Homo sapiens: one gene and its partner. The protein of the gene in region 1 purifies or fractionates together with the protein of each later gene. This does not show direct contact. Each region holds a gene or a part of one and is shown on either strand. Other genes may lie near its edges. The genes, in order: CLSTN1 and KLC1.

Region 1 (8,100 bases):
CTGTAATCCCAGTACTTTGGGAGGCGGAGGCGGGCGGATCACTTGAGATCAGGAGTTCAAGACCAGCCTGGCCAATATGGTGAAATCCCATTTCTACTAAAAATACAAAAATTAGCGAGGCTTGGTGGCAGGCGCCTGTAATCCCAGCTGCTTGGGAGGCTGAGGCATGAGAATCGCTTGAACCCAGAAAGTGGAGGTTGCAGTGAGCTGAGATGCTACCACTGTACTCCAGCCTGGGCAACAGAGTGAGACTCTGTCTCAAAAAAAGAAAAAGAAGCAAGTCATAAAAACTGCACGTGGGCTGGGCGCAGTGGCTCACGCCTGTAATCCCAGCACTTTGGGAGGCCGAGGCGGGCGGATCACCTGATGCCAGGAGTTCGAGACCAGCCTGACCAACACAGAGAAACCCCATCTCTACTAAAAATACAAAATTAGCCAGGCATGGTGGTGCATGCCTGTAATCCCAGCTACTGAGGAAGCTGAGGCAGGAGAATCGCTTGAACCCGGGAGGCAGAGGTTGCAGTGAGCCGAGATCTTGTTACTCCATCCTGGGCAACAAGAGTGAAACTCCGTTCCCACCCCCCCCCAAAACAAACAAACAAAAAACTGCATGCCATGTGATACCATTTTTAAAACCTTAAAACCAAGCAAAATGAAACAACACTGTTCAGGGAGAATAAATGGTAGCACTATTAGCAAAGCAAGGGAATTCAGGTCGTGTTACCTTTGGGGGAGAGAAGGTGCCACCAGTGAGGGCCCAGTGTGTTGAGGGGCAGCGAAATTCCTGATCTCTTCACATTTCCACTCCTCCATAGTAAAGGGTTTATAAGCAGGATATATATTGACTTGGTAGAACAGAGCTTTCATGTAATGAGAACAGTGACTGTTGTAGCATCCCTACAGTTAGTTTTGAATCTGGTTTCTATTCACATTTAAGCAGATGTTCCATTAGCAGAGGGGTTTATATTTGTTGCCTTGGTTGGGTACTTTGGATTAGAAAAATATTGTCATTTTTTTCAGTTCAAGAACAAAGGGTTAAAACCTTTTGTTCGGCTGGGTGCGGTGGCTCACGCCTGTAATCCCAGCACTTTGGGAGGCCGAGGCGGGTGGATCATGAGGTCAGGAGATCGAGACCATCCTGGCTAACATGGTGAAACCCTGTCTCTACTAAAAATACAAAAAATTAACTGGGCGTGGTGGCGGGCGCCTGTAGTCCCAGCTACTCGGGAGGCTGAGGTAGGAGAATGGCGTGAACCAGGGAGGCGGAGCTTGCAGTGAGCCGAGATCACGCCACTGCACTCCAGTCTGGGCGACTGAGCAAGACTCCATCTCAAAAAAAAAAAAAAACCTTTTGCTCCAAATTTTTGTTTCATTAAATCTACTGATGAGTTGAATGTTACCAGAATCTAGCTGAGAGAATTTAGGTTGGAAATGAACATCTGAAAACTGCAAAATAACAAATAGATGTACTTATTCATGGTTTGTCACTAGAGTGTTCATTAAAAGAAAAATCCTGCCGGGCACGGGGGCTCACTCCTGTAATCCCAGCACTTTGGGAGGCCGAGGTGGGCGGATCACGAGGTCAGGAGATCGAGACCATCCTGGCTAACATGGTGATACCCTGTCTCTACTAAAAATACAAAAAATTATCCGGGCGTGGTGGCGGGCGCCTGTAGTCCCAGCTACTCGGGAGGCTGAGGCAGGAGAATGGTGAACCCAGGAGGCGGAGCTTGCAGTGAGCCGAGATAGCACCACTGCATTCCAGCCTGGGTGACAGAGCGAGACTCTGTCTCAAAAAAAAGAAAAATCCTAATGACCCCTGAGGGTGTTAGGACACTTCATGTAGGAGTATTTCATCCCTAAATTAATAACTTCAGAATTATGCAGTAGTTCATGGTAAGTTGGATTCAAAGTGACATTTTGTTCCTGAAGATTAGGTTTTGCTGTAGCAATCGTAGAAGCCGGTCGCTGAGCTTGGTGTGGAAATGTGTAATATGTGCACCTTTGACTTTTTTCCTTAGTGTATTCCATCTTCATTCTTTCCTGTATTACTGACATGGGCTTATCTTTTCTCCCTTTAGAGAGTTTTGAGGTGACAGTCACCAAAGAAGGTGATAAAGGGTTCTTTCTTCCCCTCTTATGAATATTAACCCACTAACTTTGTTTATAAAATTGGGAATCAGCCCTTAAACAGGAGAAACTGTCATGCTCTTTTATCCTTATTTATTCTCCTACTTTGTTTCTATTTTAAAGTATATTGATGGAAATTGTATGTAACCAGACCCTTGGTTAGAAATATCTGGAAATCAGACATCCATTTGAACTGTATGGATAACACTGTACATTTTTGTTTAATAGAACTTCAGAGATTTGCTTTATAACAATTTTCTATTAGTTGGAATTGTGGAAGGAGTGCAGTCTTATTTTCATGTGAAATACATTTTGTGGAGTTTCACATCGACATCAAAACATTTATACTGTTCTCCCATGGACAAGAATGGAAACATAGATTTTTAACTCCTAATTAAGTTGTGAGCCAATTTAGATGTAGAGAAGTTCCCAGGCTGGTGTCTTTTTCAGGTTTGATAGGATAAAGTCCGAAACAAAGGCAAGTCTAGCCAGTCCCTCCCATAATAGAAACTGTGTCTGAATCGTAGATGATAAAATAGCTGTTGAAATGGATGCCTGACGAGTCGGTATTTCTACCTTTCTCATTGAGTAGTTTGTTTTGATTCCCTAATTTTAGCCAGGCTCATTGCACAGGAAGACTTGTTTCCTTTGATTTTTTTTTTTGACAGAATTTCTGTAATTACGGTGCTGATCCTATATCTCACGCTTCCTCCTCTCTCAACACATAACTGCGTTTTAGCTTCTCTCTGGTCCAAATCAAACTGGCTGCCAGCCCTCCCAGGAGCTGGGGCAGCGCTGGTGTTCTCAGGCCTGGCTGTGTGCTAATGAGACTCCTTTTACCCTCGAGCTATCTAAGTGCTCCTGTGGAATGCCTGTCTATATTTTCTTCTCTCTCTCTTTTGTATTCCTGCATGAATGGATGCAAAGTAAACAAGTTGCTTGGAAAGCCAGAATCTGCTTCATCTTACTAAAGCCCGAGAACTTCCCCATGTTTAAAACACAGTGCCCCTGCTTTGTCCACGGACCCTCCAAACCCCTGGCTGCCAAATTGTTGTCATTTATTTTCTTTGGGGGTGGAGATGGGGGGAGGAGGGCAAGGTGCAGAAGATCTATGTGGTAGGAATTCTTACCTGTTCTGCTTTGACTCCCTAGGTGAGATTTGTGGATTTAAAATTCACGGGCAGAATGTCCCCTTTGATGCAGTGGTAGTGGATAAATCCACTGGTGAGGGAGTCATTCGCTCCAAAGAGAAACTGGACTGTGAGCTGCAGAAAGACTATTCATTCACCATCCAGGCCTATGATTGTGGGAAGGGACCTGATGGCACCAACGTGAAAAAGTCTCATAAGTAAGTAAGCTGGACAAAGAGTGAACATAACCCACCGAGTAAACGTGTGTGCGCAGAACGAAAATAGTAGTGACTATTGCCTGCTCCCCAAGACTGTTTTTGAAATAGGCAGAAGATAGTTCTCAAGTGTCTACAATTAGATTGTAAACACTTGGAGGGCAGGAATCATGTCTCTCTACCCTTGTATACAGTTTCTAGCAAGAGCCTTGCTCACATTAGGCATATTAGGTTTTTTGGGGTTGTTTTTGTTTGTTTTTTGAGATGGAGTTTTGCTCTTGTTGCCCAGGCTGGAGTGCAATGGCATGATCTTGGCTCGCCGCAACCTCCGCCTCCTGGGTTCAAGCGATTCTCCTGCCTCAACCTCCCACATAGCTGGGATTACAGGCATGCGCCACCACGCTCAGCTAATTTTGTATTTTTAGTAGAGATGGGGATTCTCCATGTTGGTCAGGCTGGTCTCAAACTCCCGACCTCAGGTGATCCGCCTGCCTGGGCCTCCTAAAGTGCTGGGATTATAGGCGTGAGCCGTACCTGGCCTTTTTGTGTTTTGTTTTTGAGATGGAGTTTCGCTGTTTCACCCAAGCTGGAGTGTAGTGGCACGATCTTGGCTCATTGGAACCTCCGCCTTCCGGTTTCAAGTGATTTTTCTGCCTCAGCCTCCCGAGTAGCTGGGATTACAGGTGCCTGCCACCACGCCTGGCTAATTTTTGTATTTTTAGTAGAGACGGGTTTCACCATGTTGGCCAGGCTGGTATCAAACTCCTGACCCCATCATTCACCTGCCTCGGCCTCCCAAAGTGCTAGGATTACAGGCGTGAGCCACCACACCCGGCCTAGGTTTTTAATAAATGAATGAGTGAATAATTTTATCACACCAAATACTCTATTAAAGAAGTAAAGGCCCTACATTAAAAATTGAAAAAGTCTGCTTCTCCCTTAGGAAGGTTATTTTGTTGTCATATTTATCTTTTGCTGTAATTCCTAAGGGCATAAACTTAATCATTGTTGGCCAGGTGCAGTGGCTCACACCTATAATCCCAGCACTTTGGGAGGCTGAGGTGGGAAGATTGCTTGAGCCTAGGAGTTTGAGAGCAGCCTAGACAATGTAGGAGATGCCATCTCTACAAAACATAAACAGCCAGGTATGGTGGCACATGCCTGTGGTCTCAGCTACTTGGGAGGCTAAGGCGGGAGGATTGCTTGAGCCCGAGAGGTTGAGGCTGCAGTGAGCCATGATTGTGCCACTGTACTCCAGTCTGAGTGTCAGAATGAGACCCTGTCCCTAAAAAACAATAACAACAAAAATTGGCCAGGCACGGTGGCTCACGCCTGTAATCCCAGCACTTTGGGAGGCCGAGGCAGGCAGATCACCTGAGGTGATTTTCACCTGAGGTCAGGAGTTCATGACCAGCCTGGCCAACATGGAGAAACCCTGTCTCTACTAAAAATACAAAATTAACCAGGCATGGTGGCACGCGCCTGTAGTCCCTGCTTCTCGGGAGGCTGAGGCAGGAGAATCACTTGAACCTGGGAGGTGGAGGTTGCACTGAGCCAAGATCACATCATTGCACTCCAGCCTGGGCAAAAAGAATGAAACTCCGTCTCAAAAAAAAAAAAAAATTAGTCACTGCTGGTGGAAGTAGGCTGGCTCGCTGCCACAATCCTGAGTGTGTTGCTGCACCTCCTGCCAGTTAGGAACTGCAGTTGTAGCAGAGAGGGCTTTGGACAAGACAACATAGAACAGGGGTCGCCATACCTCAGGACGTGGGCCAGTACTGGTCCGTGGCCTGTTAGGAACCAGGCCACACAGCAGGAGGTCAACAGCATGTGAGCGAGTGAGCATTTCTGCCCGAGCTCCACCTCCTGTCACATCAGCAGCGGTATCAGATTCTCACAGGAGCGCGAACCCTGTTGTGAACTGAGCATGCCAGGGATCTAGGTTGTGCGCTCCTTATGAGAATCGACTGCCTGATGATCTGAGGTGGGGCATTTTCATCCCAAAACCATCCTCCCACCCCCATCTGTGGAGAAATTGCCTTCCATGAAATCAGTCCTTGGTGCCAAAAAGGCTGGGGACTGCTGGTGTTCTCAAGTCCAGTGTCTTCTACAATTAGATTGTAAGCTCTAGTCTTTTCTAGAGCTCTAGTCTTTTCTCCACCACTTGCTAGCCCTTTGGCATTGTGCAAATTTAATTTTGTTGAGTCTGTTTCTTTTTCTTTTGTTTTATTTATTTATTTATTTACTTATTTTTTGAGGCAGAGTCTCGCTCTGTCACCCAGGCTGGAGTGCGGTGGCACAATCTCGGCTCACTGCAACCTCCACCTCCAGGGTTCAAGCGATTCTCGTGCCTCAGCCTCCCAAGCAGCTGGGATTACAGGCACGCTCCACCACACCTGGCTAATTTTTGTATTTTTGGTAGAGACGGAGTTTCACCATGTTGGCCAGGATGGTCTTTAACTCTGACCTCTGGTGACCCTCCTGCCTCAGCCTCCCAAAGTGCTGGGATAGGTGTGAGCCACCACACCCGGCCCTGAGTCTCAGTTTCTACTTAGCACATCTACTAAAGAAGGGTATGTGGGCGAGATGGTGTCACATAACCCATTGTGAGGGTCAGACCGATGGCACTGGGATGAGGAGGCTCATGGTGAGCAGAAGGTGCAGTGCCCCAGTGAGTCTCTTCTCTTTTTCCACAGTGTAATGTTATTGTTTCCCTTGAAAAGGTCAGATTTTGACCAAAGTCCTTGACTGATTCAGAAGCATGCCCTGACCATTAGCCCTTGAAACCTACAGTTTTTTTTATTTGTAGCCAGGTCTGATGACACCCTAATTTTCTTGATAACTGAGCTGGGGTATTGGCAGGTGGCAACGGCCTGCCTCTCCTGAACTCTTCCATTTGTTGAATCAGGACCAGGTGATGCCATGGACTCCAGCCTATTCCCTAGAAGTAGGACAGAATTCGTTTGAACTCTCAGAATCAAACCATTTCATGCTTTCTCTGTTTCATACCCCTTCTTCCCTTGGCTCTATTTTTTTTCTGGATTTTGCTACAAAATATGTTTCAACTTTATAATTGGAGAGCAAACAGACGTCTGGTATTGTTTATCTCCCTTCTGCCTGTCTTGTCCCATATTGTCAAAAAAAAACACCCAAGTCTCTTTTATTTTAGATGATTGGTTTTTTGCTTTATTCTTAGGATATGGAAGAATCGACCCAAATCCCTCTTTTAACTTTCTGTTATCTCCACACTTGAATGAAAAGCAGTGAATAGCTTGTTTAATTTTTGACTTCATCATATGAATTTCATGAAACAAGGTATCAGAAACAGGAAATTTTAAAGTAGGGCAGAATTGGGTAAACACACATACACACTCTCTGTCTCTCTCTCACACTGAAAACAAGCAGAAAAATATTTTTCTCCCTCCCTTTGTCCAGAGCAACTGTTCATATTCAGGTGAACGACGTGAATGAGTACGCGCCCGTGTTCAAGGAGAAGTCCTACAAAGCCACGGTCATCGAGGGGAAGCAGTACGACAGCATTTTGAGGGTGGAGGCCGTGGATGCCGACTGCTCCCCTCAGTTCAGCCAGATTTGCAGCTACGAAATCATCACTCCAGACGTGCCCTTTACTGTTGACAAAGATGGTAAGAATCGAGGAGCCGGCTTTTCAGCTAGGTAGACAGTCCCTGCTAACCCCACTGACTTTACACCCCAGCTTCTGTGCTTCGTCAGAACTTCATGGAACTCACAAGTTGGAGACCTAACCTGGTGTGTGTTTGCTTTTAATTGTAAAAACATTTAAGTTTCTACTTTGTTCCCTGACAACTTCTTCTCTGGAACCTGTAAGTCCTGTGTTCTCTTGTGGGGCTCACCTCTTTTTTGCTTTCCCACCAAAATCAAATAAAAATCCTCCTACCTGACATGGCTTTGTTTTTTTAATCTTCTTAACTTTCAGTCCACATGCATCTGAATGAGACTGACCTTTACATTTAGTTTGTCTCATTTTCTGTTCTCCATTAAGTTTTTTGTTTTTGTTTTTGTGGTTTTTTTTTGAGACAGTTTCTCACTCTGTTCCCCAGGCTGGAGTACAGTGGTGCGATCTCAGCTCACTGCAACCTCTGCCTCCCGGGTTCAAGTGATTCTCCTACCTTAGCCTCTCGAGTAGCTGGGATTACAGGTGCCCACCACCACGCCCAGCTAATTTTTTGTTGTTGTTGTTTGTATTTTTAGTAGAGATAGGGTTTCACCATGTTGGCCAGACTGGTCTTGAACTCCTGACCTCAGGTGATCCGCCCACCTTGGCCTCCCAAAGTGCTGGGATTACATGTGTGAGCCACCGCGCCTGGCCATGTTCTCCATTAAGTTAGAATCTCCTGTGACATCTTTTTTTTTTTTTTTTTTGTTTGAGGGAAGGTCTTGCTCTGTCGCCCAGGCTGGAATGTAGTGGTGCAGTCACTGCTCACTGTAACCTCGAACTCCTGGGCTCACGGGATCCTCCCGCCACAGCCTCGCTAGTAGCTGGGACTGCAGGCACACACCTGTAGTCCCAGCTATTTGGGAGGCTGAAGTGGGAGAATCGCTTGAACCCAGGAGGCAGAGGTTGCAGTGAGCCGAGATCAGGCCAC
Region 2 (8,100 bases), on another chromosome or scaffold:
CATTCTTTGTAGATAAGTGGAATGTTAGAAACCAGTATTTTATTTTTATTTATTTAGAGATGAGTCTCACTGTGTGGCTCAGGCTAGAGTGCAGTGGTGTGATCCCCGCTCACTGCAACCTCCGCCTCCCAGGTTCCAGTGATTCTCCTGCCTCAGCCTCCCTAGTAGCTGGGATTACAGGTGCCCACTACCACACCAGGCTGATTTTTTGTATTTTTAGTAGAGACGGGGCTTCACCATGTTGGCCAGGCTGGTCTCAAACTGCTGACCTCAGGCGATCCACCCGCCTCAGCCTCCCAAAGTGCTAGGGTTACAGGTGTGAGCCATTGCACCTGGGCTGAAACCAGTATTTTATGTAGCAAAGAAATGATCAGTAATATACTCAAGACGAGAGTATTTGGGAAGATTTAAGTGTCAAATTTCAGGGCATAGAATAAAAGTGACAAGCACATTAAGATTGCAAATACTGGTCTTAAATGTCTGTTGGGAACCAACTGAATGGCAGGTACTGTGCTGAGTAGTCAGCGATACCTTGATAAAAGAGCCACTGTTGGCCGGGCGTGGTCATGCCTGTAATCTTAACTCTTTGGGAGGCTGAGGCTGCAGATCGCCCCTAGCTCTTTGGGAGGCCGAGGCAGGTGGATCACCTGAGGTCAGGAGTTTAAGACCAGCCTGGCCAACATGGTGAAACCCCGTCCCTACCAAAAATACAAAAATTAGCCAGGTGTGGTGGTGCACACCTGTAATTCCAGCTACTCATGAGGCTGAGGAAGGAGAATCGCTTGAACCGGGAAGTGGAGGTTGTAGTGAGCCGAGATCACGTCACTGCAGTCCAGCCAGACTCCGTCTCAAAACAAACAAAAAGAGCCGCTGTCAGCCGTGCAGTGGCTCACTCCTGTAATCCCAGCACTTTGGGAGGCCAAGATGGACCGATCACCTGAGGTCAGGAGTTTGAGACCCGCCTGGACAACATGGTGAAACCCTGTCTCTACTAAAAATACAAAAAAAACCAAAACCGGGTGTGGTGGCGGGTGCCTCTAATCGCAGCTACTCAGAAGGCTGAGGCTGGAGAATCGCTTGAACTGGGGAGGCAGAGGTTGCAGTGAGCCGAGATCACGCCATTGCACTCCAGCCTGGGCAACAAGAGCAAAACTCTGCCTCAAAAAAAATAAAACCAAAAAACAAAAAAACTCTGTCCTCTAGGAGCTCACAGGCTGGCATGGGCAGGTACCACAGACCAGGTTAAAGGCTGTGGAGTGCACTGAGGAGGCGATTCTTCACAAAAGAAAAGTACCAATCAGCCAGTGTCAGGGGGTCAGGGGTGGGATTGGGATTGGGGTTCCTGCTTGGAGGAAATAAATCCTGAGGTTGTGCTGCTGTAAAGGGGCATGTTGGGAAGGGGACATGGGAGTGAGTGTGGAAAGACGAGGTTAGGAAAGGCCTTGAATGACTTCTTAGAAGTCTGCTTTCATTCTGAGGTTTACAAAGGAGGGTTGGAAGATTTTTTTTTTTTTTGAGATGGAGTCTTGCTCTGTCACCCAGGCTGGAACGCAGTGGCACGACCTCTGCTCACTGCAGCCTCTACCTCCCAGGTTCAAGTGATTCTCCTGCCTCAGCCTCCCGAGTAGCTGGGACTACAGGTGCGTGCCACCACATCCGGCTAATTTTTTGTATTTTTAGTAGAGTCGGGGTTTCACCACGTTAGCCAGGATGGTCTCCATCTCCTGACCTCGTGATCCGCCCGCCTTGGCCTCTCAAAGTGCTGGGATTACAGGCGTGAGCCACCGCGCCTGGCCGGAGGGTTGGAAGATTCTGAGGAGCCAGTTGCCACTTTAGAAAGAGCATAGGCAGTGGTGGGGCAGGTGCTGTGAACTGGGATGAGGTTAATTAGGAAGCCATTAACCCCAACTCGGCAAGCCTCAGGATTAGGGCAGTGACAGAAGGAACAGAGAAGCTAGGTGGGGGCAGGGGCTGGGCTGTAAGGGTTATAGTGGAGCTGATTTGGGGCTGACTGGATTGGGGTAAATGAGGAGCTGCAGGGAGGACTCCCCAGAATGATCCTGTGAAAACCTGAGTCACTCCTCTGTTAAAGCTTTTGTCAGTGTCCTCTGAGCACCCCACCCTGTCTCTTTTCATCTTCCTGCTCTGGCCCTACTCAAGCACTTCCAGGTGCATCTGGAGTTCTGAACCAAACCCATTCTTGTAGTGATTAGCATTTCTTCACTTCCCCACATACTCCTTAGCCTCTGCCCTGATTTTTCTCCTTAGCACACCTCACTATCTTAAATGCTGTATTATTATTATTTTTTTTTTATTATTACTTTTTGAGACGGAGTCTCGCTCTGTCACCCAGGATGGAGTGCAGTGGCATGATCTCAGCTCACTGCATCCTCTGCCTCCCGGGTTCAAGCCATTCTCCTGCCTCAGCCTCCCAAGTAGTTGGGACTACAGGCATGTGCCACCACACCTAGCTAATTTTTGTATTTTTAGTAGAGACAGGATTTCACCATGTTGGCCAGGCTGGTCTCGAACTCTTGACCTTAAGTGATCCACCTGCCTCAGCCTCCCAAAGTGCTGGGATTACAGGCCTGAGCCACCGTGCCTGGCCAATACTGTATTATTTTAATCATTTTAAAATTTTTATTGTTTGTCTCCACTTAACATTCATAACCTCCACAAGGATGGGGAGTTTTGTCTCTTGTATTCAGTGTCGGTGCTTGGCGTGTAATAGGAACTTAGTAAATGTTTGTTGAAGGAATGCATCTAGAATGATCCTCATCTCTAATTTGGGTGATTCACTGGCTGGTGACACTCATCCAAGGAGGGAAAATGGGAGAAGGATGAGATTATGAGTTTGTTTTTGGACATGTTAAATCTGAAGTGCTTGTGGGGCAGCCAAGTGGACTAGTGGGCAGTTAGAGATACATCTTTGGAGCTCAAGACAGAGGCTGAGGCTGGAGGTAAAGATTCCAGAGACTGCATCATATCGTTGAGCCAGTCGGGTGTGATGTCCATCTGGTAGAGATGGGGAGTGGGTCTAAGAGGAGAGGGTCCTGGGAAACCAAGAGAAGAGGAGGGAGGAGATCAGTAGCAAATTGGCTAAGAAGTCAGTGATGGGTTGGACTGAGAAGTCTCTATGGATTTTGCTTCTAGGAGGTTACTAATGACCTTTAACTTTTTTTTTTTTAAATATAGTTTATGTAGAGACGGGGGTCTCACTGTGTTTCCCAGGCTGGTCTCGAATTCCTGGGCTCAAGCCATCTGCCTGCCGTGGCCTCCCAAAGTGTCGGGATTACAGGTTTGAGCCACTGCACCCGGCCTGTTGCCTGTTTCCTGAGAATATTACCTCTTAAGGATGGAGGCTATTTCGAGATGATCTTCATTCGTTCTCCCAAGGCATCCTTTGTGGCGTTGTACTCTGTAGCCTCCTAGTTAGTATACTCATGGATCAGAAATGAATTATGATTTTTTTTTAGTTTTAACTAATTTTTGGAGGCAGATGAAAGCAGTTTGCATATATGCTTTTTGAATTTGAAAAGTGCTATCTGAACTTAAAGCAACGGATATGGAGCAAACATGTTAAGCTGAGTTACGTGCATACGTGAACTGAGTTACTTCCTTGGTTCTAAAATATCTGTTACCTTCATTTAAACCATAGATTGTTCCCTGACTTCAGTTGCATAACATAAATTTATGTTCAGGCTTCTCTGAAGTTCACTATGCTGCTACTAAAACTGATCAGAGTGATGTTTGCACTGTTCCAGAGAAAATAGGTACTGTAAACCCTGCGGATGTCATATGTGTCTGTAGTTTCAGTTACTCCGAAGGCTGAGGTGGGAGAATCAGTTGAGCCCAGGAGTTCAAACTAGCTTGGGCAATATAGTGAGACCTTGTTTCTTAAAAAAATAAAAGGCTGTGCTTGGTGGCTAATGTCTGTAATCCCAGCACTTTGGGAGGCTGAGGAGGGCGGATCACCTGAGGTCAGGAGTTTGAGACCAGCCTGGCCAACATGGGTGAAACCTTGTCTCTACTAAAAATATAAAATTAGCCGCGTGTGGTAGTATGCTTCTGTAGTCCCGGGTATTTGGGAAGCTGAGGTAGGAGAATCACTTGAACCCGGGAGGCGGAGGTTGCAGTGAGCCAGATCGAGCCACGGCACTCCAGCCTGGGCGACAGAGTGAGACTCCCATCTCAAAAAGAAAAAAAAAAAGTAAAATAGGTACTGTTACTGAGATTCTACTGTTGAGGAATTTGAGGGTGAGAGAGGGGAAGTTTCAGAAACCAAAGTTACACAGCTGTGAAGTCAAGATTCTAACTCAGTTTTTTTGCTTCGCGGTATAAGCTTTGAATCACCTTGCAGTACTTAAAGCTGCAGCTTCAAGTGAATCATGATAATGCTGTTTAATCCTATCATTACTTTTTCTTGGGGAAACCTCGCGCCACTTCAATTTTTTTCAAAGATGTACCATTTTAACCATTTAAAAGTTCACAATTCAGTAGTGTTAAGGATATGCACATCGTTGTTCCACATTTCTGGAACTCTTTCATCTGGCAGCGCTGAGACTGTAGCCCCCAAATACTGATATCTCCTCCTCCCTCGCCCTCCCCCGGTAACCATCTTTTCTACTTTGTTTCTATGATTTTGACTACTTTCAATACTTTATTTTTTATTTTTTTTGAGATGGAGTTTCACTCTTGTTGCCCAGGCTGGAGTGCAGTGGCACGATCTCAGCTCACTGCAACCTCTGCCTCCCGAGTTCAAACAATTCTCCTGCTTTAATTTCCTGAGTATCTGGGATTACAGTCATGGGCCACCATGCCGGGCTAATTTTGTATTTTTAGTAGAGATGGGTTTCTCCATGTTGGTCAGGCTGGTCTTGAACTCCTGACCTCAGGTGATCACCCCCCATCGGCCTCCCAAAGTGTTGGGATTACAGGCGTGAGCCACCGTGCCTGGCCTTGCCTGTCTTTTTCATCTGAGCCATTCTAGCGGGGTATAGTGGCATCTTGTTAGTTTTAATGTGCATTTCACTGATGACTCATAATGGTGAGCGCTTACATGCTTGTCGGTCTTTGTATGCCTGGATTTGTAAAGTGTCTGTTCAAGACTTTTGCCCATTTAAAAAATTGGATTGTTTGTATTTTTAAGTTCCTTACATATTTATTTATTTATTTATTTTTGAGATGGAGTCTCCTCTGTTGCCCAGGCTTGAGTGCAGTGGCGCGATCTCGGCTCACTGCAAGCTCTGCCTCCCGGGTTCACGCCATTCCCCTGCCTCAGCCTCTGGAGTAGCTGGGACTACAGGCGCCTGCCACCACGCCCAGCTAATTTTTTTTTTTGTTGTATTTTTATTAGATATGGGTTTCACCATGTTAGCCAGGATGGTCTCGATCTCCTGACCTCGTGATCCGCCCGTCTTGGCCTCCCAAAGTGCTGGTATTAACAGGCGTGAGCCACCACGCCCAGCAGTTCCTTACATGTTTTTTTTTTTTCAGATGGAGTCTTGCTCTTGCTCTATTGCCCAGGCTGACGTATTTTTTATACAAGCCGTTTGCCAGATATATATGTGTCGCAAATATTTTTTCCTAATCTATGGCTTAACTTTATTTTTTGGTAGTGCCTTTTAATAAATCAATACTTTTAATTTTTCTTAACCATGCTCTGGCAAGTTTTATTAAAGAAATTTTCGGCTGGGCGCGGTGGCTCACACCTATAATCCCAGCACTTTCGGAGGCCGAGGCGGGTGGATCATGAAGTCAGGAGTTTGAGACTACCCTGGCCAGTATGGTGAAACCCCGTCTCTACTAAAATTACAAAAATTCGCCAGGCGTGGTGGTGTGCACCTGTAGTCCCAGCTACTTGGGAGGCTGAGGCAGAAGAATCGCTTGATCCCGGGAGGCAGAGGTTGCAGTGAGTCGAGATTGCGACACTGCATTCCAGCCTGGGCAACAGAGTGAGACTCTGTTTCAAAAAAAAAAAAGAAATTTTCGCAGGGTTTATTTTTATCTTTTATTTTTTGTTGTTGCCTAAGCAACATCCGCTTTCCTTAATTCTGAAAGCATATCTATAAATAAGTCACCCAAAGGCCAAATAGATGCATTTGTTTTGTCTGGTTGTTAATGTTTTCTTTTTAAAAAAATATTTATGTATTTATTTAATTTTTGAGACAGGATCTTGCTCTGTTGCCTAGGTTGGAGTGCAGTGTCACAGTCGTGGCTCAGTGCAGCCTCGTGTTCAAGTGATCGTCCCACCTCAGCCCCTGAAGTAGCTGGGACTACATGTGCGCACCACCATGACCGGCTTGTTTTTTGTAGAGACAGGGTTTCATGGCATTGCCCTGGCTAGTCTTTAACTTCTGGGCTCAAATGATCTGCTCTCCTTGGCCTCCCAAAGTGCTGGGATTACAGACGTAAGCCACTATGCTGGGCCACCAAGATACTATTTATTTCCCTGAATATGACGTGGACTGTTCCTGTAGGCTGGTCCCTTCACCTCAGGACCCTCTTTGCTGGTATTGTTTGGGGCTTCTGCGCCTGTATATGGGGATGGGACCTGACCCTGCTGATCTGGCCAGCACTGCCAGGGTTTCCTGTTGCCCATCTCTCGGTAAAACATCCCTTATAAACCTTTGCAAGGAAAAAACCTCTGTTTTCTTCCCTCCATCCCATTTTTCCTTAATGTGCTACCCTCGTCTGTATTCATAGGAACTTTATTTAACACTTGAGAACTGAGAGTAATTGACATTTCTTTCTTGGCTGTCCTTCATTCTGTGCACCCAGACCTATTGCTTTTTCTACCACATTCTTTTTCTCTTTTAGAAAATTGAAATGTAAGTCACATCACATCAAATGCCCCATTTTAAAGCGTGCAGTGCAGTGATTTTTAATGTATTCTCTGTTTTGTGCAACTACCATCTATCTAATTCCACACATTCCTTTTCCCTTTTTAGTGCTTGGTGTTTTTTTTTTTTCTTAACTTTCTTCATCACTGTAAGCTTTCCCCACCTGGCTGAATTTCACATGATAAAACCAGGGGAGGTAAAGTGACCAAAGATGATGCCCTTTGCTTCTCTGGCCTTTGCTTTCATTTCATTAATTTTTTTTTTTTTTTTTTTTTTTGAGTCAGAGTCTCGCTCTGTCACCCAGGCTGGAGTCTGGGTGTATATGTATGAACACAGTGGGGTGTGTGGGTGTGTGTGAACATAGTGGTGTGTATGTATGAACACAGTGGGGGTGTGTGTGCGTGAGCACAGTGGTGTGTGTATGTATGAACATAGGGGTGTGTGTGAGCACAGTGGTGCATATGTATGAACATAGGGTGTATGTGTGTGAGCACAAGGGTGTGTGTGTGTGTGTGCGTGCATGCAGAGTGGTAGGGTTCCTGAAGCAGAGGGACACTTGGGGCAAAGAGACCTTGGATTGTGTTCTTCTTGTTGGTAGAATAAGCTTAAATCACTTCATGTATCCCAGTTTCCTCAGCTGTAAATGGGAATTATAATGATAGGTCATCAAACTACCTGCAGACTTTTTTTGTTGTTATTTCGATAAAATATTACACATTTGAAAATGCTCCCAAAACTAACATATTGGACAGATGCGAATTCTTCTTTCCTTTTTTTTGAGATGGAGTCTTGCTCTGTTGTCCAGGCTGGAGTACAGTGGCATGATCTTGGCTCATTGCAGCCTCAGCCTCCCAAGTAGCTGGAACTACAGGCATGTGCCACCACGCCTAGCTAATTTTTATATTTTTAGTAGAGATGGGGTTTCACCATGTTGGCCAGGCTGGTCTTGAACTCCTGACCTCAAGTGATCCGCCTGCCTCAGCCTCCCAAAGTGTTGGGATTACAGGTGTGAGCCACCACGCCTGGCTCTTTCTTGTCTTTTACTTATTTATTTTTTTGTGACAGGGTTTCGCTGTGTCACCTAGGCTGGAGTATAGTGGTACAGCCAAAGCTTACTGTAGCCTTGAGCTCCCAGGCTCAAACAATCCTCCCACCTTAGCCTCCTGAGTAGCTGGGACCACAGGCGTGTGCCACCACACCCAACTAATTTTTATTTTTGTAGAGACAGGGTCTCACTGTATTCCCCAGGCTGGTCTTG

Evidence for each region.
Region 2: the proteins of CLSTN1 (region 1) and KLC1 purify together in Homo sapiens (co-immunoprecipitation; 3 studies listed by BioGRID and IntAct, with this or other methods). This does not show direct contact.

What each region holds. Positions count from the first base shown.
Region 1 is NC_000001.11:9,750,492-9,758,591, reverse strand, and holds part of CLSTN1 (calsyntenin-1 isoform 1 precursor), read left to right. Parts: intron 1-2,081; coding exon 2,082-2,111; intron 2,112-3,282; coding exon 3,283-3,478; intron 3,479-6,910; coding exon 6,911-7,119; intron 7,120-8,100. UniProt on the Homo sapiens protein: Postsynaptic adhesion molecule that binds to presynaptic neurexins to mediate both excitatory and inhibitory synapse formation.
Region 2 is NC_000014.9:103,631,561-103,639,660, forward strand, and holds part of KLC1 (kinesin light chain 1), read left to right. Parts: intron 1-8,100. UniProt on the Homo sapiens protein: Kinesin is a microtubule-associated force-producing protein that may play a role in organelle transport. The light chain may function in coupling of cargo to the heavy chain or in the modulation of its ATPase activity.